Homo sapiens: one gene and its partners. The protein of the gene in region 1 purifies or fractionates together with the protein of each later gene. This does not show direct contact. Each region holds a gene or a part of one and is shown in the gene's direction. Other genes may lie near its edges.

What was found.
Region 2: the proteins of EXOSC1 (region 1) and WDR36 purify together in Homo sapiens (affinity purification with mass spectrometry; one large-scale study listed by BioGRID and IntAct). This does not show direct contact.
Region 3: the proteins of EXOSC1 (region 1) and ZFC3H1 purify together in Homo sapiens (affinity purification with mass spectrometry; one large-scale study listed by BioGRID and IntAct). This does not show direct contact.
Region 4: the proteins of EXOSC1 (region 1) and PTAR1 purify together in Homo sapiens (affinity purification with mass spectrometry; 2 studies listed by BioGRID and IntAct, with this or other methods). This does not show direct contact.
Region 5: the proteins of EXOSC1 (region 1) and THOP1 purify together in Homo sapiens (affinity purification with mass spectrometry, with the first as the bait; one large-scale study listed by BioGRID). This does not show direct contact.
Region 6: the proteins of EXOSC1 (region 1) and RPS15A purify together in Homo sapiens (affinity purification with mass spectrometry; one large-scale study listed by BioGRID and IntAct). This does not show direct contact.
Region 7: the proteins of EXOSC1 (region 1) and C1D purify together in Homo sapiens (affinity purification with mass spectrometry; 3 studies listed by BioGRID and IntAct, with this or other methods). This does not show direct contact.

What each region holds. Positions count from the first base shown.
Region 1 is NC_000010.11:97,436,007-97,439,506, reverse strand, and holds part of EXOSC1 (exosome complex component CSL4), read left to right. Parts: intron 1-803; coding exon 804-837; coding exon of another isoform or gene 838-844; intron 845-1,756; coding exon 1,757-1,807; intron 1,808-2,231; coding exon 2,232-2,316; intron 2,317-2,955; coding exon 2,956-3,062; 3' UTR 3,063-3,500. UniProt on the Homo sapiens protein: Non-catalytic component of the RNA exosome complex which has 3'->5' exoribonuclease activity and participates in a multitude of cellular RNA processing and degradation events.
Region 2 is NC_000005.10:111,126,848-111,130,347, forward strand, and holds part of WDR36 (WD repeat-containing protein 36), read left to right. Parts: coding exon 1-36; 3' UTR 37-3,500. UniProt on the Homo sapiens protein: Part of the small subunit (SSU) processome, first precursor of the small eukaryotic ribosomal subunit.
Region 3 is NC_000012.12:71,629,349-71,632,848, reverse strand, and holds part of ZFC3H1 (zinc finger C3H1 domain-containing protein), read left to right. Parts: intron 1-334; coding exon 335-877; intron 878-961; coding exon 962-1,071; intron 1,072-1,894; coding exon 1,895-2,026; intron 2,027-2,127; coding exon 2,128-2,249; intron 2,250-3,138; coding exon 3,139-3,240; intron 3,241-3,500. UniProt on the Homo sapiens protein: Subunit of the trimeric poly(A) tail exosome targeting (PAXT) complex, a complex that directs a subset of long and polyadenylated poly(A) RNAs for exosomal degradation. The RNA exosome is fundamental for the degradation of RNA in eukaryotic nuclei.
Region 4 is NC_000009.12:69,712,019-69,715,011, reverse strand, and holds part of PTAR1 (protein prenyltransferase alpha subunit repeat-containing protein 1), read left to right. Parts: 3' UTR 1-2,993.
Region 5 is NC_000019.10:2,792,003-2,795,502, forward strand, and holds part of THOP1 (thimet oligopeptidase), read left to right. Parts: intron 1-2,761; coding exon 2,762-2,910; intron 2,911-3,500. UniProt on the Homo sapiens protein: Involved in the metabolism of neuropeptides under 20 amino acid residues long. Involved in cytoplasmic peptide degradation. Able to degrade the amyloid-beta precursor protein and generate amyloidogenic fragments.
Region 6 is NC_000016.10:18,784,065-18,787,334, reverse strand, and holds part of RPS15A (small ribosomal subunit protein uS8), read left to right. Parts: intron 1-2,511; coding exon 2,512-2,597; intron 2,598-3,270.
Region 7 is NC_000002.12:68,053,005-68,056,504, reverse strand, and holds part of C1D (nuclear nucleic acid-binding protein C1D), read left to right. Parts: intron 1-3,367; exon of another isoform or gene 3,368-3,444; intron 3,445-3,500. UniProt on the Homo sapiens protein: Plays a role in the recruitment of the RNA exosome complex to pre-rRNA to mediate the 3'-5' end processing of the 5.8S rRNA; this function may include MPHOSPH6.

The sequences.
Region 1 (3,500 bases):
ATTCTCATAAGGAGTGGGCAGCCTAGCTCCCTCATATGTGCAGTTCACAATAGGGTTCATACTTCTATGAGAATCTAATGCCCACTTCGATCTGACAGGAGGCGGAGCTCAGGCAGTAATGTATGCGATTGGGAAGCAGCTGTAAATACAGATGAAGCTTGCCTGCCACTCACTTCCTTCTATGCAGCCCGGTTCCTCACAGGCCACCAGAAGTTGGGGGCCCTTGCTATAGTGCTTCTGTTCAAGCCCTGAGGCAACGAAATTCCTTATCCTTTCTTGCCAAATCCGATCTGCCTTTATCTAATCAGAGGTATTGATACTGCCTCTCCATGTGGTCTGAGGATGCTTCTCCACCCTGCTCCTCTGGGTAGCAGCTGTGTCCCATTTACAACTTGTTCTGTCTGTTCTTGTAGCTCTTTATTTACTAGGAATCTACAGAATAATTCTTTCTCACAGGCTGGGCAAGGTGACTCATGCCTGTAATCCCAGCACTTTGGGAAGCTGAGGCGGGTGGATCACCTGAGGTCAGGAGTTCAAGACCAGCCTGGCCAACATGGTGAAACCCCATCTCTACTAAAAATACAAAAAACTAGCTGGGCATGGCGGACGTGCCTGTAATTCCAGCTGCTTGAGAGGCTGAGGCACGAGAATTGCTTGAACCCAGGAGGCGGAGGTTGCAGTGAGCAAAATTGCGCCACTGTACTCCAGCCTGGGTGACAGAGGGAGACTCTGTCTCAAAAAAAAAAAAAAAAAAAATTCTTTCTCACAGGTAATTAATCTTTCTGTTAATTCTTTTTTTATAGCAAGGAAGATGTCCGAGCAACTGAAAAAGACAAGGTTGTTGGTTGGTTCTTTTTTTTTAATGGCTTTACGTATCTCAATCCCTTAAAAGTATTATCTCAGGCCAGGCATGGTCACACACACCCGTAATCCCAGTACTTTGGGAGGCTGAGGCGGGAGGATCACTTGAGTCCAGGACTTCAAGACCAGCCCTGGCAACATAGCGAGACCCTGTCTCTACAAAAATTTTAAAAATTCAAAAATTGGCCAGGCATGGTAGCTCATGCCTGTAGTCCCAGCTGCTTGAGAGGATGTGGCTGGAGGATTGCTTGAGCCCAGGAGTTTGAGGTTAAGTGGTGGCACGCACCTGTAGTCCTAGCTACTTGGGAGGCTGAGGCAGGAGGATCCCTTGGTCCAGCAGTCCAAGGCTGCAGTGAGCTACCATTGCATCACTGCACTCCAGCCTGGGTGACACAGTGGGATCCCACCTCTTAAAAAAAAAGAAAAAAGGGCCGGGTGCAGTGGATCACACCTGTAATCCCAGCTCTTTGGGAGGCCAAGGTGGGCGGATCACAAGGTCAGGAGTTCAAGACCAGCCTGACCAACATGGTGAAACCCCGTCTCTACTAAAAATATAAAAACTAGCCTGTGTCGTGCCATGCACCTATAATCCCAGCTACTCAGGAGGCTGAGGCAGGAGAATCGCTTGAACCCGGGAGGCAGAGGTTGCAGTGAGCCGAGATCGCACCACTGCACTCCAGTGTGGGCGACAGAGCGAGACTCCATCTCAAAAAAAAAAAATTTTCATTTGTATGATAATACTGTAGAAGCAATTAAAAGTTCTTGACTTGACATGAGTAATGATGATTTCTACCCTCCAGGATTAGAAAGTAGATTGGCTTTACCAGAAGCGTTCACAGTTTCATATAGACCCAGTCTAGAGCTTTCACTTAACATTCCTGTTCTTTCTTTACAGGTTGAAATTTATAAGAGTTTCCGCCCAGGTGACATTGTCTTGGCCAAAGTGGTATCCTTTATTCCCAGCAGACTTCTGGTCCTTTGTCAAAAGAAGAGAAGGAGGCCGGGTGTGGTGGCTCATGCCTGTAATCCCAGCACTTTCGGAGGCCAGGGCGGGTGGATCACCTGAGGTCAGGAGTTCGAGACCAGCCTGGACAACATGGTGAAACCCTGTCTCTACTAAAAATACAAAAATTAGCTGGGCGTGGTGGCACATGCCTGTAATCCCAGCTATTCGGGAAGCTGAGGCAGGAGAACCGCTTGAACCTGTGAGGCAGAGGTTGTGAACTGATATCACGCCACCGCACTCCAGCCTGGTTAACGGAGCAAGACTCCATCTCAGAAAAAAAAAAAGGTAGAAAAACAACTCAGGTGGCTAAGGTGGGGGAAGACTTCTAACTCCTCATTTTCCTTCACCGGTGTTATGTGACTAGATCTCCTTAGGTGATGCACAGTCCAACTACCTGCTAACCACCGCCGAGAACGAGCTGGGAGTGGTGGTAGCCCACAGTGAGTCAGGTGAGATGGCCTTGTTTCCACATCCTTACTTTCCCTGGATCTATGGTTTGGGATAAATCCATTGTTTTTCCTGGTTTCCCTTATCTGGGAAGCAGTATGGCTATAGATATTTCCCTCTGAGATTAGAATGATTATTTTTTTCTTTTTTGCTTGGTGCTGGTGGTGGTGGTTGTTTGAGACAGGGTCTCACTTTGTCGAGGAGGCTGGAGTGCAGTGGTGCCATCTCCACTCACCACAGCCTCCACCTCCTTGGTTCAAGCAATTCTTGTCACCCAAGTAGCTGGGATTACAGACACACGCCACCACACCTAGCTAATTTTTGTATTTTTAGTAGAGACAGGGTTTCGCCATGTTGGCCAGGCTGGTCTCAAACTCCTGGCCTCAAATGATCTGCCCGCCTTGGCCTCCCAAAGTGCTGGGATTACAGGTGTGAGCCACCACGCCCAGCCTGATTCTCCTTATATAAATCCAAGGAAACGGGACTCACTTCATAAGTCAGTAGAATGAACAAAGTTTTTTCTTTATGAGTTGAGGTTCAGTAGGAAGCTTGGTGGCACTTCAGCTTCATACCCAGCATAAAAGAGGAGTCGCAGGCAAATCTTTGGGGTCTGGGCTCCACCACCAGCTTTTCCCTTCCAGGTATCCAGATGGTTCCCATCAGCTGGTGTGAGATGCAGTGCCCTAAGACCCACACTAAAGAATTCCGGAAAGTAGCCCGAGTACAACCCGAATTCTTGCAGACCTAAGAAGCCACTTTTTACCCTATGGAAGGGGGTAAGCTGTTCCTGAGTATAACACCAAGATGCTGCTGTCTTTATTCAAACACCTGGCGTCGGCCAACAGCCACTTCCAGAAAAATCTTCCAGTTTACGCTGTAGATGGAACATGTTTCTGTGAACCTATCAGTGGATTTCATTCTCTTGAGTAATAAATCTTATCTTTTCAAGGCACCAACAAACAAAACTGTGATATTGGAAATAGCCTATCCCTCCTGACAGTCCTTATAAATACATATTTTTTGCTATGATAAAACTTTTTTACTAAAAGGATGTTATAGAGTCTGTTGTCTTAAGCAGAGAAAGACATCTAAATGGTGTCAGGACATTTCAGTACTTCTGCTTATTGAGTACTTACTGTGCTAGGCACTGAGTCAGGTGCTTTACATACGTCCCCTTCATTTAGGT
Region 2 (3,500 bases), on another chromosome or scaffold:
TGTATTTTAAATTATCTCAAAAGTGCTTTGTTGTAAAAATAAATTTGTGACTAAACAAAGACTTTCATATTAAATGGGTTCAATTGAACTCATTTCTTATTTTCCAAGTGTCAATGTGAAAAGAAAATAAATGCTAGCACTACTGACTAGTCAGTATATCTCCACTTTAAATGCTAAATACTTTCTTGAAATAAAATCGCACCTCCCGGCCAGGCATGATGGATAATGCCTGTAATTCCAGCACTTTCAGAGGCCAAAGCGGGAGGATTGCTTGAAGCCAGGAATTTGAGCCCAGCCTGGGCAACATAGCAAGCAAGATCCCATCTCTACAAAAAGTTAAAAAAATAAATTACACCTGCCTTTTGTTTTGAAGACTTAAAGAATCTGCTCAAATGATTTATTTTCTGAGTCTCTTCACATTAACTTTTATATGATTTTTAAAAAATTATTACCTGCTTATATTTTTTGAGTATCTGTTTCATATAAAGAGATGCTGCATGTTCACTGTGAAGTATTGCTGAATTAAATTGAAAATGTCAGATAAAACTGATACATGATGTAGTTATAAAAATGCTGTTATGAAGAAAAAAGGAATGCTTTTTTCCTCGGTGGCCTTTGATAAAAATATGAATGATTGACTCTCAGAGTTGGAGGATAAACTAATCATCTTCTAGCACAGCCCTGTTGTGTTGCAGGAGAGGAATCAGGCTAAAGTCTGCTGGTATTTCAGTGACAGATTAAAACTTTCTAACAGTGGCCTAGTGCTTTCTCCATTGTAATGTACTGAAAGGAAGTTGTTCATGGATCAGAAATGTGGGAGGCCCTTCCTTGCCCAAGGCAAGTCGCTGTAGATGGTTAAACTGATACCAAGGATAGGTAAGGGAAATTCCAAATTCCATTGGAAGATGGCCTTTTACTGACACTGCAGACATGTAGATAACAATAGTTTAATGTCCTCTGAAAAGGTAAAAATTCCATAAATCCTTGCAAACAATTTTTAGCAATATTGTTTATTGCTACCACAGCCAAGAATGGGTATTTCAAAGCCAGGGTTTTTTTTATTTTGTTTTGTTTTGTTTTTTTTTTTTTTTTTTTGGCTACACTTTTTTGGGGGGGACCTTTTAATTTGGGAAGAAAATGCTGAGTATACTTTTCTTTCACAACCATTGCAAACCCAGGTAGCCCTGGAGTTTTCTTTTTTTCTCATCATCATTGTTTTGTTTTTTTTATGGTTCAAGACTTTTGCAATACATGAATTAAAAATAAGCAGTTCTTTAAAGCATAGCGCTCTAAAAACTATTCTTAGTTTATACCCTCAAAAGTTGGGTCTTTCATGAAACACAGTGGTTTGAATATGAACACCAGTAGCATTCTCGTTCGTTGTTAGGGTAAGAGAGTTTTGTAGAATGATCTCCAAAAGAAGCAGTCCTCAAAAGGCATTTACCAGTGATATCTTTTAATATTCATGTTTTTATTTAATGATGTAAGATAGAATTAATAAACTACTAAGGAAATAAGCCAATGTGGTTATTGTACTCAATTTCGTTTTTCTTTTAGAAATGTGTATTGACTTATTAAAGCCACTGACAGAAATGTTAATCATGACTTAAGTTCTAATTTAAAAAACTATTTTCCTCTTTCCTAAATACTATATTCTAAATTGGAATATGGCAAAATCCCAATATATAATTCTATACCTAGTAAAGATTGTAAATAACTAAAACAAAATGATAAGAGCTGTGAACTGAAATTGTATTGCTTACAGAAATCATGAACCGAATTTTCTTCTCTTTTTAAAGTGAGCATAAAGACTTAAGTGTATTGTTACCAGAGATATATTTAGATAGAATACATCATTTTGGCAGGTAATCTTCTAGAACCTTTCATGTACTGTTTCCATCAAGGGAGGGAAAGAAATAGAAAATATAATTTTATCTATATTTTCCTTAAAATATATCAATCTGTGCACACTCTTTCAGTTTTTTAATTACTCATGTAATATATGACTACATTTTGCTTGTGTGCTTTTTGAAAACCATCTTCAGTCCCAATATCCTCTGTAGAAGTAATAGTTTTAACTCTCCTAGATCTTCTTTTAGAGTGTTTTTATGAGTGTTTAATGTAGGAATGTGTATATATTATCTACAGCCACAGGAAATGTATAGTTACGATTTTTACATACGTGTATGTATATTATTGTACAACTTGCTATTTCTACTTGGGAGTTTTTTATTTTGGTACATTCACATTTACCTAATCTCTTGTGCACTGTCCAACAGTACTTTGCCTATAATAGACACTTAAGGAAGTTTTCCTTCTTTTTATTCCTTTATAATTACAAACAATGCTGAAAGGAACATCATCCTACATGAGCCCTTTTTGTACATATAAGGCTCTCTCTGTGGTATATGCTTAGGATTTGAATTTCAGGCCAGAGTATAACCATTTTTAATTTGAAGAGATACTTCCATTTGGGTTCCAGAATGGCTGTATCAAGTTACAGTTCCCCTGAGCAAGATATGAGCATCTGCTTCCCCATGTAATTAATGACACTTGCTATTGGATTTTTGTAATTTAATTACTCTGAAAAAATTATTTTGGTTTTAAATCAGAAATTTCTCACTAGTGAAGATGGACATATTTTTGTATGTTTATTTTAGAACATATAAACATTTGTTAATTTTCTTTTTCCTCTCATTTTTCTATTGAATGATTTGTCCTTTTATCTCATGGATTTGTTAGGAGTTCTCTTGTATTTTCTGTATTTTATGTCTGTTGCCAATGTTTTCTCCTACTTAGCCATTTGGCTTTAATTTTACATGGTGTCTGTTTAAATAAATGTTTTATATTTGTATACAATCAAATTGATTAATTTTCATGACTTATTTCAGGATATAAAGCAAATTATTTTCTAAGACATTTACAGTGTATGTTTTCCTATGTTTACATGTGCTCATTTCACGTCATGTATTTTCCTCTACGACATGTTTCTGTGTGAGTAGTTAACATGTAGATCTTTAGAATTGATTTTTCTGAAGAGTGAAACAGCGCTGCTTCCAATATCTGTTCAAAATTCATTTATTGAAAAGTCCACTCATATGTCTGATTTGAAATGCTGTTTCATTATGTGTTAAATTCTTTCACTGAGCTCTTCCATATTCCTAGTAAATGATGCATTACTTTGGTATGTTCTCAGATTTGGGTAAAGCCTTCCTCATGTTCTATAAAAATTGGTTAACTGCTGGTGAGCACATCTCTTGAAGTTTTGATATGGGTTGCACAACATTTATAGGACTGATTTGGAGAGACCGACAATACCGAGTGCAGTCCTCCCTTGGTATCTAGTTCCAGGACCCCTGTGGATACCAAAATCCAAGCAATGCCCTGCAGATCATGGGACCTATGCATATGAAAAGTCGGTCCTTGTATTTGAGGGTTTTGCATCCCTCAAATACCATATGTTTTATTTGTGTTTGGTTGAAAAAAGTTTGCATATAAGT
Region 3 (3,500 bases), on another chromosome or scaffold:
AGAAAGTTTTTATGATAGTTTTAAGGGTAAGATGTATATATAAAGTAACTCTTTGCTGTAAATTCCAAGAGATTAAGATTAAAGCTTTGTTTTTAAATGACATCCACATTTTTGGATGTCTACTTTATTATTTTGTCTTGACTTTGTTTTTGTCATAAGTCATAGATTAACTAGCAAAACTTTTGGCTACTTATGTTAAACTCTGTTTTATTCTCCATATTGATTTAGTTTTATAATGTTGGCATTGTATGGTGGGGATAGCACAATTATCTTACCAAAAATTGTTTATAAAATCACAGTGATGTAAAATACGTGTATCATTTTTCTCCCTTAGCCAAACAAAATGATGAGACTGGACAGTTCTCCAGTATCAAGTCCAAGAAAGCATTCAGCAGAACTAATTGCTATGGAGAAAAGACGGTTACAAAAGCTAGAATATGAATATGCCCTGAAAATTCAAAAATTAAAAGAAGCCCGTGCCCTTAAAGCAAAGGAACAACAAAATATCTCTCCAGTTGTGGAAGAGGAACCCGAATTTTCTTTACCTCAACCCTCACTTCATGATCTGACACAAGATAAATTAACCCTGGACACTGAAGAAAATGATGTTGATGATGAAATTTTGTCTGGTTCAAGCAGAGAGCGAAGAAGATCTTTTTTAGAATCCAATTATTTTACTAAACCTAACCTTAAGCACACTGATACTGCTAACAAAGAATGCATAAACAAACTTAATAAAAATACTGTAGAAAAACCAGAACTTTTTCTAGGGTTAAAAATTGGTGAATTGCAAAAATTGTATTCAAAAGCTGACAGCCTAAAACAGCTGATTTTAAAAACCACCACAGGCATTACAGAGAAGGTTTTGCATGGTCAGGTAACTGAACATTTCATATTTTCTTTAAAATCTGGAATTCACCCAGCCTTATTTGCCTTACAGAATTATTATTTTCTTTTGCAGGAGATTTCTGTAGATGTGGATTTTGTCACAGCACAAAGTAAAACAATGGAAGTGAAGCCATGTCCTTTTAGACCCTACCATAGTCCTCTTCTAGTTTTTAAGTCCTACAGGTATAAAAGAAAGATTCAATAAGCTTGAATTTCAGGATTTCTGTTTGGTTTTTAATATTTTATCTTGAATATTTGATGATAATGAAAAAGCAATTGAATCATTGCTATTGATAACCAGACTTACCCTTTTAAGGAACATAAAAATTAAGTGTCCTGCCGTTGGGCTCAAACCACACTCTTGGATTTATCAGTTCGTATCAAATTCCAGTTTCTGGCTATTGGTAGAAGTGTGGAGAATTTTGGATTTCTGTTTGTTAGGAATTTTAGGAAAAATAATTGGAATCTTAGAGGTTTTTTTTAATTTTTGATTTTTAATTTTACTGTTATTCAGTCTAAGAAGTGCATTGGCCAGCCTTCATAAAATTTATTTAGACATTTTCATATGATTAACTTTGTGGGTCCCCCATTTAGACTTTTAAAAGTTGTGAGAATGTTAAAGGGTTGCATGTTTTTATCTTAAAATTGTAAAGCACCTTCCAGGTAATATAGACTTTTTCCAGATTTTCTTGTCTTGGCTGGTAATGTGTGTAAGAAATACCGGTATTATATAGTATTTTATTATGTGGTGAGAAACTACTTTTAGAATACAAGGTTTTTTTTCTGTTTAAACTATTTTATGTTCTTGGTATAAAAGCAACTTGTTTCTATCCCTTGATATTCTAGGTCTTTTCTCGAATTAATTTTGGCATTAATTTAATTAGATAAATAGCTCATAAATAGTAAGCATGGAAATTTTAACTTGAGAAAGAAAAACTAAAGTTTTCTTAGTTTTCTGAGGAATGTTTGTTGGGCATAATATACCTGTTCACTCTCTTCACCTTAGATTTAGTCCATATTATCGAACCAAGGAAAAACTTCCCCTGAGCTCAGTATCATACAGTAATATGATTGAACCGGATCAGTGTTTCTGCCGTTTTGATTTAACAGGAACATGTAATGATGATGATTGTCAATGGTGAGTAGTTTTTGTGAACATTTTGTAATTTGAAAAATGGTCTTGTTTGCTTAACTTTGATATGTACATGATTATCTTTTCTGTGTTTTTTTTTATCTTAGGCAGCATATACAAGACTATACACTTAGCCGAAAACAGTTATTCCAGGACATTCTGTCATATAATCTGTCTTTGATTGGTTGTGCAGAGACAAGTACTAATGAAGAAATTACTGCTTCAGCAGGTTTTTAAAGACTTCCTATTCTCTCCCAAATGAAAATTGAATTTAGGCAACTTAAAAATTCTATATTAGTTGTTGACATTGTAAAATACTTACTATAATTCAGTGTATTTACCCATAATACTTTATCTAGATTTGCTGTATCCAGTATAATTACGGTAAAAATTTACTTCCTCTGTTACACTAGCCACATTTCAAGTACCCAATGGCCACATGTGGCAAGTGCATGCCAGTAGGACAGCACAGATTTAAGACATTTCCAACATTTCAGAAAGTTCTTTGGACAGAGCTCATTTAAATATTTAGTTCCATTTATTTAAAAGAAAATATTAAGCTATTTGTATAGAAACTTTACTATTGATTTTAACATAGGAGCCTATTTTTACTTATTGTTTTCAAAAAATAGAGGAAGGCTGGAAATTACGATGGCTGTTGTTTCCAATTCTATAATGAAATAAGACTTGATACACTTGTGAGCAAATATTATTAAGCTTTTTCTCAGATTTGGTGCCAAGTAATAAACCTCAAGCTACAAATCTTTTGGAAGTAAAGAAAATAATAATTACTAAATTTGGTGTTATCACAGCCCAGAGTGATTGTAATGTCACTGAATCTATTTTATCGCTCCCAATTTGGGACTTTAACTTAATTACTTAGTTCATTTTAGGAACTACTTTTTTTTTTTTTTAATCCCAAATGGGGTATATGATGTGGTAGGATTTGCCATAGTAGTTAAGATAATACAGGCTTTGCCCTTTCAAATGCCATAGGTGTTATTGACTAGTACCATATAATCGCCTTTAATTCTTAAACTAGTTCACGTCATACATTTTAATTATCCTAGTCTCTGTAATTGATATTTATCATGAAGATTGCATTGCTCTTATTTCAGAAAAATATGTTGAGAAACTTTTTGGAGTAAACAAAGATCGAATGTCAATGGACCAGATGGCTGTTCTCCTTGTTAGCAATATCAATGAAAGTAAAGGTCATAGTAAGTACATATATAAGTGTGTGTGTGTGTGTGTGTGTGTGTGTGTGTGTGTACTGTATCTCTTTCTGAAAAGGACTTTTTAGTTTCTGTATGACAGAAATTTTGTTGGTATTATGTTCTTAATGTAATACATATCATTCCAGGCTGGGTGCGCTGGCTCACGCCTGTAATCCCAGCACTTTGGGAGGCTGAGGTGGGCTGATCACTTGAGGTTAGGAGTTCGAGACCAGCCTGGCCAACATGGTGAAACCCCGTCTCTA
Region 4 (2,993 bases), on another chromosome or scaffold:
TAATCATCTGAAGAAATTCTTTGATTTCAGTGACTTACTGATCTGTACCTGTGCACATATCATTTTATGCTTCTCCTTTTTTCCCCGCAACTTGAACTGTGACTCTTTCAGATATTTCTTAAATCTGTATGAGTCATTTTTTAAGCTTAGGGATTTGATATGTATTAATGTCCCCTTTGTCTTCTGTAGATTTTAGCATTTTATTACCTCTTAAGAAACTCTGGGCCCAGACTTTCAGTCATATTTCTTATTCCTATGGTACAGTTCTCACTTAAAGGCTTAATTATTAGTAGGGTTAAATATATACAGGTTATCTCTAAAAGTACTTAAATTTTTAAATAAGGGCTTATGTGATACAAGATACGGAAACAAAAGTTTTTGGATTTTTATGCAGTAGTTTGCAGGAAAGCAAATACATAGTAGATCGTATGCCACTTAGGTATGTTCAGGTCATGCCAGTTTATTCTTGTTGGGCCACACACACATGTATGTGTGTGTAAAAGGAATTTTTAGTATTGAAGCAAACAAATTGTCAGTTTAATAATTTTCTCTTACATAGCACAAGATGGCAGATACCACCTACTGTACAACAATCTAATAATCCCTACCTTAGTTCCCCTGAGTTATAGAAGATGCTAAAGATTTAGTTGTAAAGGGAAGTAACATGATTTTTTTTTTCTAAAAAGCTGTTTTAAGCTAACTATTATTTTGCTACTGGAAAATTATATTTTAAAACTTACAGATATTTAAAGTATGCTAGAAAATTTGAACCTGATAACAACTGAACCTTTTGTCTTGAATAAATTTCTCAAATAGAACTGTGCAAACCCTAGCACTTTATGTGTTGCTGCCTCCCCATACCTAGGTATGCTCTGTAATAAGCTCCCATTTAATGGAGAGATGTGTGGAGGCACTGAGAAGTTAATGAAGAAAAATCAACCCTAAGAATTCCTTATTGTCACATAGTGTCTTTTAAAAAATAACTGTAGAGACTGTGTTAATTCGAGTGCCTTTCTTACTTTTTTGGGAGCAAGATTATATTTAATGTTTAAGAAAACAGGATGGAAGTTTTATCAAACAGTTGATTGTGGCCCATTGTTTTATTTATTCCCATCGCTAGGCATGGCCCCGTAGGGTATTTTATCCTTCAGTGAGAGACTGATATAAGCAGGCAGGATGCTTTGATTATTCCATTAGTTATCATTTTAAGCACCCTACCAAGATTTAGTTCTTTCTTTCTGGCAACTAACGTTTTGGGGGTTGGAGGCATCCCATTTAGAGGATGGTGTGTGCACAAATAGATTAGCCTGAAACCTGCGTCCAAAGGGAAACAGTGGCACTCTGCCCTAAAATAAAGGCCAGAACGTTGTCCTAAATGAATCCTTTGCCTTACTTTAGGACCTTCCTTCCCTCTCAAATTCAGGCATAATGTAATATAGTTGAAAGGGGGAAAACAGTACTTGCTTTCTCTCAGGTATTGGAGGAAAAGAAGTAAATGCGTAGATGAAATTTTAAATGTATCATTTTATCTGTTTGTATATGGAGAAGGGAGGGATAGGAATTCCATATTTCAAGATAGCAAATATAATTTCATAGAAATATATAGCTAAAGATTCCAAAGTGCTTTTACAGAGAACTGTTGAATAATATATTCCTAAAGGGCAGCAATATGCCATGTTCATGGTGAAGACAGAAAACCAATGAATCAGTTGTGGATCTCAGGTGGGAGAGGAAACCTCAGGCTCCCAACTTTGACTTCTCTACTCTCACCAGGCCATGTTAACACTGTAAAACCAAACTCTTTGCTAAGAACAATACAGGGCAGTAGTTTAGTCTGCTGATGAAACCTTGTGCTTCCAAGAATATTAGCTATATATAATTTGTGCTTTCTGGATGATTCTATTGTCCAGAAAGCTAACCCTGACGTTACTTTTATTAGTCTGTTGTTATTCCTCAGGGTGTAGAAGATTTAGTAAATTCAGGACAAATTTTATATTCAGTGGCAAAAAGAAAAGGCAAAAATATGCTAAATATATTATTAGCTCTTAAATTTTAGTATAGATCGTATTTTTTATAAACTATTACCAGTACAGTAGCTAGTAGATATTCTGTGACTGCCTCATTGTTTATCTTGCTGCTTTGGTCCCTATGGCTCTAGTATGAACATTCTCGTGTCTTCTGTGGAAATGATTTCTGTGTTATAGTTCCATCTTTGGTAGAGGTGGGGATGATTGTATTTTGTTTTAGTTGACATCATTCTCAACTTTTAGAAATACTGTTGAGGAAAATGATTACCGTTGGTTTTCAAATTGACAACTATTTTGCTTCCAAAGACTTCAGTTTCCCTTTGTTTTATGTGTAGACCTCATATATGTTCAACACATTGCATACTGCCTTGCACATTGTAGGAATTCAACAAGTCAAGAGTTGATAAAAGCTAGAAAGATAAAACTAGCTTAGCTATCATATCATCATTGTCCATATTCTTAGCTTTGGGAAAAATATACCATTTTGCATAAAATACATAATCAGTTTCAAATGCATAAGGCAAAGATATACAGTTGCACAACATTGCAAGTGAAATTTACAAAGGATTTTTATTTTTGTGTATGCTAAAAGTGCTCCTACTTAAAGCAGTTTTCTTTATTAGACCAACACCTTCCAGCAAAGTTAGAAACCAAACACAAGTGCTCATTTGCCCAAATTAACCAGATAGTTATGTAAACTGTTCATATTAAGTCTTTAGTGGTTTACAAACAATAACATTCTGGCTTTTCTTCCATACCTTTTAGGAATCAGCCTTAATTTTAAGTATAGCAGTCACTTTCCTCAAGGTACTATGCAGCATACTTTAGATTGCTTATTTATCATTATAAGGTGATAGGTAATAAATTTGAGGTTTACTTGTCATATAATTTCATATGGCAGATATTGATTCAAGGAGCATTCTATTAGAAAAAGTTGATAAATTATCCTCCCTTACAAATATCATC
Region 5 (3,500 bases), on another chromosome or scaffold:
GGCTTCTCTCTGATCACAGATTAAGTCCACTTCGCCCAGGAGCCCTTCCTCCTCCTCCTGTCCCCATGCCAGCTGCCTGGATTAGTCCCTGCACGGTACTGACACTGTCGTCCCTGCGGTCACTTGTCTAATCGGTCGCCCGTAAATCCCGAGAGGACAGAGCTGATTTTCTTTCTGTCTTCAGCCCTAGCGTCAGGCCTGGCCCAGAGCCCCCACTACAGGCTTTTTTGTTGTTTTTTTGAGACAGGGTCTTGCTCTGTCACCCAGGCTGCTGTAGTGCAGTAGTGTGATCATGGCTCACTGCAGCCTCCATCTCCCAGGCTCAAGCCATCTTTAATTTTTGGTAGAGATGAGGTCTTGCTATATTGCCCAGGCTGGTCTAGAACTCCTGAGCTCAAGCTTCCTGCCTGCCTTGGCCTCCAAAAGTGTGGGGATTACAGGCATGAGCCACCGTGCCCAGCCCACCCCCCCTCTAAACACACGGAGCCTCCTCCAGACGTGCGGAGCCTCCTCCAAACATACCGAGGCCTGGGGACATTTCTGTTGACCCAGAACTGAGGTAGTGGCCAGACTGCAATTTGAATTCAGGTCTTTCTGCTGCAAAGTATATGCTTTTTTTTAAAAAAAATTATTATTATTAGGGTTTTTTTTTGTTTGTTTTTTGTTTTTTTAGAATGAGTCTCGCTCTGTCACCCAGGTTGGAGTGCATGGTGCTGTCATGGCTCACTGCAGCCTCAACCTCCCAGGCTCAAGCGATCCTCCTGCCTCAGCCTTCTAAGTAGCTGAGAGCACAAGTGTGTGCCACCGTGCCTGGCTAATTTGTTTTTTTAAACTGCTCCATTGAGATATGATTTGCATAACATACAGTTCACCCATTTAAACCACACACTTCAGGCTGGGTGGCGGCTCACACCTGTCATCCCAGCACTTTGGGAGGCCGAGGTGGGCGGATGACTTGAGGTCAGGAGTTCGAGACCAGCCTGACCAACATCCAGAAACCCTGTCTCTACTAAAAATACAAAATTATCCGGGCGTGGTGGCGCATGCCTGTAATTTCAACTACTCGGGAGACTGAGGCAGGAGAATCACTTGAACCCGGGAGGCGGAGGTGGCGGTGAGCCGAGATCACACCATTGCACTCCAGCCTGGGCAACAGCAGCGAAACTCTGTCTCAAACAAACAAACAAAAAAAAACCCACACACTTCAGTGGTTTTTAATAAATTTGCAGCATTGCTCAGCTGTTACCATTCTTTCATTTTAGAGCATTTTCATAACCCCAGAGAGAAATTTTATACCCTTAAGTGGTCACGCTCCATCTCCCCTGTCCCCAGCCCTGGCACCCACGCGTCCCCTCCTGTCTCTGTGGATGGGCCTGTCCTGGATATTTCGTAGAAATGGCACCACATGGCCGGGTGCAGTGGCTCATGCCTGTAATCCCTGCACATTGGGAGGCCGAGGCAGATGGATCATGAGGTCAGGAGTTCAAGACCAGCCTGGCCAACATAGTGAAACCCCATCTCTACTAAAAATACAAAAATTACCTGGGCGTGGTGGTGGGTACCTGTAATCCCAGCTACTCGGGAGGCCGAGGCAGGAGAATCGCTTGAACCCAGGAGTTGAAGGTTGCAGTGAGCCGAGACTGCACCACTGCACTCCAGCTTGGGCAACAGAGTGACACTTCGTCTCAAAAAAAAACAAATGGCATCACACACTGTGTGACTTTTGTGTCTGGCTTCTTTCTCTGCATGTGACATCATCGGGCTGCATCCACACCGCAGCCTGTTCCAGAGCCTCATTCCTTTTCATGGCTGAGTCGTGTTCCACTGGGCAGAGGCCACATCTTGTCAGTCCATTCACTCGTGGATGGACCTTTTGTCAATTGTGAATCGCGCTGCTGTGAGTGCACGTGTGCAGATTCCTGTGTGGATGTGTGTTCATGTCTCCTGGCTGGATCCTGGCACTGGAGTCTTGGGGGTCATGGGATGACTCCATTTTAAAGCTTTTTTTTTTTTCTTTTTTTTTCTTTTTTGAGATGGAGCCTCACTCTGTCGCCCAGGCTGGAGTGCAGTGGTACCATTTCAACTCGCTGCAACCTCCACCTCCCGGGTTCAAGCTATTCCCCTACCTCAGCCTCCCAAGTAGTTGGAATTACAGGCACGCGCCACCACGCCTGGCTAATTTTTGTATTTTTAGTAGAGATGGGGTTTCACCTTGTTGGCCAGGCTGGTCTCGGACTCCTGACCTCAAGTGATCTGCCTGCCTCGGCCTCCCAAAGGGCTGGGATTACAGGCTTGGCCACCACACCTGGCCTAAAGCTTATGCTTTTCTAGCCACTGACACTTCCTCTACTCAACCTAAAGCACAGATGTGCTCAGGAAATTGTAAGTAGTTTATGCATTTAAATGTGACCATCGGCAGCTGCAGCTCTCTCTGGAATGGAATTCCGTCAGCCTCTGTTTCGTCGTACCCAGCTCTGTTGGGTCCTCCTTGGCTTGGAGGGCTTTGAGTTGAATCCTTATTTTTCTTCGGTCTGTAAGATCTCCAAGGACACAGGCAACAGCACCTCCTTTCTCCATCCCAGGGCCCAGCCTGGAGGGGACGGTGGCGTGTGCCTCTAGTCCCAGCTACTTGGGAGGCTGAGGCAGGAGAGAGTTCACGGGGGGATTCAGCAGACAGGCCTGGGAGAGGGGTCCGGGCAACACCTGCCAGTTGTACTGGGGCCTGTTCTCACACCTGTCTCCCTGGTCTCCCCTGTTTTAGTTCAGAGGAATATCCTTGACTTCCCCCAGCATGTTTCCCCCTCCAAGGACATCCGGACAGCCAGCACAGAGGCCGACAAGAAGCTCTCTGAGTTCGACGTGGAGATGAGCATGAGGGAGGACGTGTACCAGAGGATCGTGTGGCTCCAGGTGAGGGGGCCCTGCGGGGAGTGCAAATAGCCTCCCAAGTAACTAGGATTACAGGCGCCCGCCACCACACCCGGCTAATTTTTGTATTTTTAGTAGAGACGGGGTTTCAACGTGTTGGTCAGGCTAGTCTCGAACTCCTGACCTCAAGTGATCCGCCCACCTCGGCCTCCCACAGTGCTGGGATGACAGGTGTGAGCCACTGTGCCCGGCCCATTTTTTGTATTTTTAGTAGGCACAGGGTTTTGCCATGTTGGTCAGGCTGTTCTCAAACTCCTGACCTCAGGTGATCCGCCCGCCTTGGCCTCCCAAAGTGCTGGGATCACAGGCCTGAGCCACCACGCCCGGCCACACATGTGCACTTTCATTTCCTTTCCTGGCCATCCTAGTGTGACCCAAACACCCCATCCCCACATGGCGTGAGCTGGCAGGGCCTGGCGGCATGGCTGCGTGGGCTCCTGCTCCCCCGGATGCTCCTCGCAGTATGCAGTGGGGCCTTTGCTGTTGATGTCACATGATCAGGAGAGACCCAGAGACCCTCCTGCTGCTGTTCATCCTCTTAGGCGAGGACCCCTGGGAATGTGCTGATGTGT
Region 6 (3,270 bases), on another chromosome or scaffold:
AAATGGAAAAGAGGGATGAGGAAGGGGCCTTACTGGCCCAACTAGAAACAGAAACTAAGAACCCATGACTGTATTCTCTCCCTTGGACACCCCTGTGTTTATTGCAACAGATAGGGGGGAAAGAGACCCAGAAGGTGAGTTGCTGAAGTATTTGTTAAAGATTTGAAGAACTAGCTGGGCACAGTGGGTCACGCCTGTAATCCCAGCACTTTGGGAGGCTGAGGCAGGCGGATCACGAGGTCAGGAGTTTGAGACAAGCCTGGCCAACATGGTGAAACCCTGTCTCTACTAAAAATAGAAAAACTAGCCAGGCGCAGTGGCGGGCGCTTGTAATCCCAGGTACTCCGGAGACTGAGGCAGGAGAATTGCTTGAACCTGGCAGGCGGAGGTTACAGTGAGCTGAGATCGCACCACTGCACTCCAGCCTGGGTAACAGGGCAAGACTCCCTAAGATTTGAAGAACTTGCAAGGGTAATTTTCAGTATGTCATGTTTTGTTCTAGTTGTAGCCATTAGAACCCCACCTCAAAATAGGATTGATTTATTTTTATTTATATTTCTTTTGAGATAGTCTTGCTCTGGTTGAGGCTGGAGTGCAGTGGCGCCATCTTGGCTCACTGCAGCTTCCCTAGCTCAAGCCATCCTCCCACCTCAGCCTCCTGAGTAGCTGGGGAATACAGGTGCATTCCACTGTGACTGCTGATTTTTCTTTAACTTTTTTGTAGAGGTGGGGTCTCGCTATGTTGCTTAGGTTTGTCTTGGACTCATGGGCTCAAGTGATCCTCCCACCTCAGCCTCCCAGAGTGCTGGGATTACAGGTGTGAGTCACTGGGCCCAGCCGAGAAATAAATTTGAACAGAGCATTCTGTAAATGGAACTTATTTGTGGCACCCTTGTTCTGTGGTATGCTAGTTTGAAAAATTCTAGCCTACAACAGTTGATATGCAGGCCCTGCTGCTCTCTGCCCGTTTTTTGAGACGGAGTCTCACTCTCACCCAGGTTGGAGTGCAGTGGCACGATCTTGGCTACTGCAACCTCTGTCTCCCAGGTTCAAGCGATTCTCCTGCCTCAGCCTCCCTAGTAGCTGAGATTACAGGTGAGTGCCACCATGCCCGGCTAATTTTTGTATCTTTGGTAAAGACGGGGTTTCGCCATGTTGGCCAGGCTGGTCTGGGACTCCTGACCTCAGGTGATCCACCGCGCCTGGCCTGTTCTGTGACTTTCGACAAAGCAAACAATTTTTGGTTTCTTGGAATTTCATTTCTCCCCATTTAAAAGAGAACGTCCCCCTCCATCGCTTTCATGCAAGACATGGACCTACCCTTAGCGTGGAAATTGAGCTTGGAAGTAAGGTAGTGTGTAAAGACTAGATTGATTAAAATTCTGGCCTTGATCACATCCTCTTACGATTCTTCTGGGTTGGGGGAGGGTATGCTGTTTTAATTCTACCAGAATGAGAAGAATTTTTGCTGCTGGAATCAACATAAAACTTGGATGCAGCGTGCGGCAGACTTTGGAAAGATCTTTCACTATAGCTTGCTTGGATAAAACTGGTTTTCCCATATTCCTATCCCTGCATTTCTTTCATCTGCCGTGAGATTGTCCTTGTTAGTCAAGTCACAGCATAGCTGATGGGGTAATAGTAGGAGAACTTAAGCAGGCTTCCTGGCGTAGAGCAGTTGGGCCTTTCTGACAAGCCCATTTTCAGTTTCTGTGGGTCAATCTCTGCTTTTGGAAGTGTTTTTCAAGTGTGCCTGTGATTTTAGAGCAGATTTTGTGAGCAGAGGGTCTTCAGTTAGTGGACATCAGTTAGTGGACTTTCTTCAGTAGTGTTTTAGGGCTGGCATGTAGTTGAGTGATGGCAGCCCTTGGCGAGCTTTTACTTGGGAGGATCATTGTTGCCATGTCCCAGTAGCCACGAGATGAGATAATTGCAGGCCCTTTGCTCTTTCTGCCTTCCATCATTCTGTCAGATTTGTTTGGAAAAATTTGTCTGGGGCTGTAGGACATTGTTTCTTGGAAATATGTAACGGTACTTCATTGGTGGGAGCAGCGTTCTTAGTTCAGTGCCTGGACAGCGTGTTCCTTAGATATTCTAATAATTTGTAGAGCTTCAGGATTTGAGACCCTATGATTTTATTTCAGCCTTATTATGTAAGAAAGGGTTGGCTGTAGTCTCTCTTGTCGAGACTTGATCTCTAGGCTATGTAAAATCTGATCATCCTGGACAGCTCTCCAGCCAACAGGGAGCACGCCAGTGGCCTGACACTGCCATGTATTGCCTTGTTCCATCTCTTTGCATGCCTTTGCTTTTTCTCCTAGGCAGGCGTAGTCTTACTTAGGTGTATTTTTTGAAAAGTATGTCAAGCATTGTGCACAGAATAAGTACCCATCTGAATGCTGGGTTGGTTGGTTTGGAGGACTGTTTATTTATGAATGTCATCTTGTGTTACTCAGTTTTTCTGTTATTGGTAAAGTGAAGAATGTTTTTGTTGTTGTTGTTATTTTATAGTGTGGGGTGATCAGCCCCAGATTTGACGTGCAACTCAAAGACCTGGAAAAATGGCAGAATAATCTGCTTCCATCCCGCCAGTTTGGGTAAGTTGGCCTTTCCTTAATTAAAAGAAGTTAATGCTAAGAATTTCTGTGGTGCAGTTTGACTTAAGGGTTTTTTTCTTTTTTTCTGTTTAAAACAAAGCAGTGGTAATTTGTCTACTCTTAACCATTTTGACCTAATAGCTCAAGTGTTATCCATATTTCTTTTCTCTCTCTTTAAAAAGAGACAGGGTTGGCCAGGCACAGTGGCTCACGCCTGTGATCCTAGCATTTTGGGAGGCTGAGGCAGGCGGATCACCTGAGGTTGGGAGTTCGAGACCACCCTGACCAACATGGAGAACCCCGTGTCTACCTAAAATACAAAATTAGCCAGGCCTGGTGGCACACACCTGTGATCCCAGCTACTTGAGAGGCTGAGGCAGGAAAATAGCTTGAACCCGGGAGAGAGGTTGCGGTGAGCTGAGATTGTGCCATTGCACTCCAGCCTGGGCAACGAGTGAAACTCTGTCTCGAGAAAAAAGAGAGAGAGACAGGGTTTCACTTTGTTGCCCAGGCTGGAGTGCAGTGGCTGTTCACAGGTGCGGTCATAACACGCTACAGCCTTGGCTTCTTGGCCTCGAGCAGTCCTCCCCGCTCAGCCTCTTGTGGATTTGGGAATACAGGCGCCTGCCACCGTGCCTGGCTATTTGCCACATTTCATGTGTTGAGCTTCAGG
Region 7 (3,500 bases), on another chromosome or scaffold:
GACATTAGTCTTGGGTGTTTGTTTATTTGTTTATTTTGCCTGCATTTTTAAGGGCCAGGTAAAAATACAAGAAATTAGGATTTTTTTTTTAAAGAAGGGAATTTGCTGGGCTCGATGGCTCACACCTGTAATCTCAGCACTTTGGGAGGCTGAGGTGGGCAGATCACAAGGTCAGGATTTCGAGACAGCCTGGCCAACATGGTGAAACCCCGTCTCTCCTAAAAAAATACAAAAATTAGCTGGGCATGGTGGCACGCACCTGTAAAAGGCAGGAGAATTGCTTGAACTTGGGAGGCAGAGGTTGCGTTGAGCTGAGATTGAGCCACTGCACTCCAGCTTGGGCGAGACAGCAAGACTCTGTCTCAAAAGGATTTTTGTGATACTCTTGAAATAAATAGACACTCTAGAATGTGAGCCTTTTGTTGGAAATGTTAGTAATACAAACTTCATTTGAGACTATATGTTCAGCAACTATCACAGATGTAGTGAGCACCCAGTAACCTTCCTCTCCCTCACTCCAGTTATATTTGGAATTGAAATGAGATGTAATGGAGCTGCTTAAATATTCTAGACGACACCTTCTCTTTAGTTATTCTCCTATATATGAACGGAGTTGTATTCTAAAAGCTAGTTTGTGAGTTAGCCATCTAATTTCACTATAGAAATAATGTACATAGGTTCTTATCTTTGCTCTCAAAGTTGTAATAATTTGTGGAGGCTACTTTTTTTTTAAGCAAATTCAAAATGTTACATAATTTTACCCCTCTATACTTCAGTGTGCATCCTCAAAAGACAGGGAAATTTTCTTATATAACTGTATTGCTATTATCATAGATGACAGAATTATCAATAATTTGTTGGTGTCATCTAGTACTTTGTCCATGTTCAGATTTCTTTCTCACAGAACTATCTTTTTCCACTTGGTTTATTTGAATCAAGATCCAAACAAGGTCTGTGTATTTCATTTGGTTGTTACATCTCTTAAATCTCTTCTTCCTCTGTCTTTCTTCCCCCACTTTTTTTTTTTTGCTTCATGCTGTTGACTTGTTATGGAAACCTGGTCAGTTATCCTGTAGAGTACTGTATTTCTCACTCCATATTTGTTTGCTTTCTTGTGGTGTTAATTTGTTCCTCTATCCTTTGGATTTCCTATAAAATGGAAGTTAGCTCTGTAGGCTTAATTGTTCAGATTCAGCTTTTTTGGGAGTTGGGAATGCTTTGCAGATGGTGCTGTGTATGTTATATTGCCTCACATCAGGAGGTTCATAATATGTGCATTTCACCTACTTTTAGTGATCTGTTGGTGGTCATTGACTAAACCTACAATTTCATTAGGCGTTGCAAAGTCGTGATTCTTTTTTAAGTTGTCATTTCTTCTACATTTGTTAGCTAGAATTTGAAGTCTAGTTCTGTTACTTGGGAACCTGATAATCAAAATAAGCTTGTTGTGGGAAAGTATTGTCAGAGCAACAATATTTTTGATGCTAGGAATGCATCTTAGTGCAATAGTCTTTTTTTTTTTTTTAAAAAAAAAAGAAAGGATGTGGGCCTTGCTCTGTTGCCCAGGCTGGAGTGCAGTAGTGTAATCATAACTTACTGCAGCCTCGAACTCCTAGACTCAAGTGATTCTCTCACCTCAGCCTCCTGAGTAGCTAGGACTACTGGTGTATGCCATCACGCCCAGCTAATTAAAAATATTTTTTTTTTTTTTAGAGATGGGTCTGTCTGTGTTTCCCAGGTTGATCTTGAACTCCTGGGCTCAAGTGATCCTCCTGTCAGTCTCCCAAAGTGTTGGAATTACAGATGTGAGCCATGGTGCCTGGCTGTGATTGTCTTTTTAATGTTTCAACTTGGTTTGGCTGTAGCCCCCAGATATTTAGTCAAACATGAATGTAGGTGTTGCTGTGAAAGTATTTTGAAGCTATGATTAAAATCCATAATCAATTAAGTAAGGGAGATTATTCTAGATCATCTGGGTGGGCCTGATTCAATCAGTTGAAAGGCTTTAGAAGCAGAGCTGAGGTTTTCCTTCCAAAAAAGAAGAAATTCCACTTGTAGACAGCAGTTTCAGCTAGTAGCCAAGAGTTCCAGCATGAGTTCCTCCCTTCATAGCCTGCCCTATGTAAACCAGTTTCTTGCCATAACTCTCTTAATATATATCTCCTACTGGTTCTGCTTCTCTAGTTGAAACCTGACTGGTGCAAAGGGTAACTCCTCTGATGCTTCTGTTCTCCAGCTAAATGGGATGGGAAGCGGTAGTAAGGGTCAGAGAACTTGCATTGTTTAGGGTAGCCATATAATTTTTTGTTCAAACTGGGACTTCTGAGAAAGAAAGGAGCTGAGTTGATGGCAAGCTGAAACAACAGGCGTAAGGTGGAACTGTCTTGGGCAAATTGAGAGTTATAGTCACCTTGTGTGTCAGCCACTGGGGATACAACATGAATATGACACAGCCCCTCAAGGAGCATGTAGTCAAAGGAGAAGTCAAGTAAATAAAAATACATTAAGAGATAGTGTTTTAAGTGACATGACAGCTTATAGTTGTTGTATTTGTCCAGACAGAGAGCATAGAAGGAGAGCATGCAGAGAAGTCTTCACTGGCCGAACTGGAACCTATTTTTTACCTCCAAAGATAAGCAGCGTTTGAAAAAAGTGGAGTTGGAAGGGCATTTCAGGCTTAGAGAATCACACAGGTGAAAGTTGAGAGTGAGAGAGCACGGCACATTTGGAAAACTGCCATCATGGCCACAGCTCTAGGATTGGAAGAGGGGAGCCATGAAAGATGAGGTTAGGCAGACAAGCAAGGGCCACATCATAATGGGCCTTGCATCTACGCTGAGGGGTTTGGAACTGTCTTCCATGTGGGAGGGAACTGTTGCAGAATTTTAAACAGAGGAGTACCATGACCAGACTGTTTAAAGCATATTTTGTAATATTCTAAAACTGGGAGTGGAGAAAAATTGATAATAGGGACACTACTCAAAGGCTGTTGAAATAATCTAGTCAGTGAGAATAGAGGAAAGCTTGTGGTGTAAGGAGATTAAGGGAGCCATATTGACAGGACTGATTGGATTTGGGGTGCCTCCCAGGTTTCTGCCTGGATTGGCCACCCTGAAGTGGAGAATTAAAGGAAAGAGGTAGCTGATGACTTCAGTTCTGTATGTGATGCTATGCACTCTTGTTTTCTCCTATCGGTACTTTGGCTTCTGTATAACCAGTGAGAGGAAGGACTGAGTGGCAGTAACATCTGTTAGGGTTACTGGGCAGCATCCCCGCAACCCAGGTACTCAGTCTCAGCCACACCTTACTGAGTGGTGAAGAGAAGCAAGTTTTCTCATGCCCTCTCCGTCTGTCTCTACCTCTGCAGCCAGTGTTTTAGAAGGAGTATGTGGAAGGGCAAGGAGTACCTATAGAACCCCGGAGGAGGGTGAGGAGCAGAGCTGGGTGAGTTCTTTTCTTCTTTGGAAATTTTAACATGTACAACTTTAGGCATGTTCTTT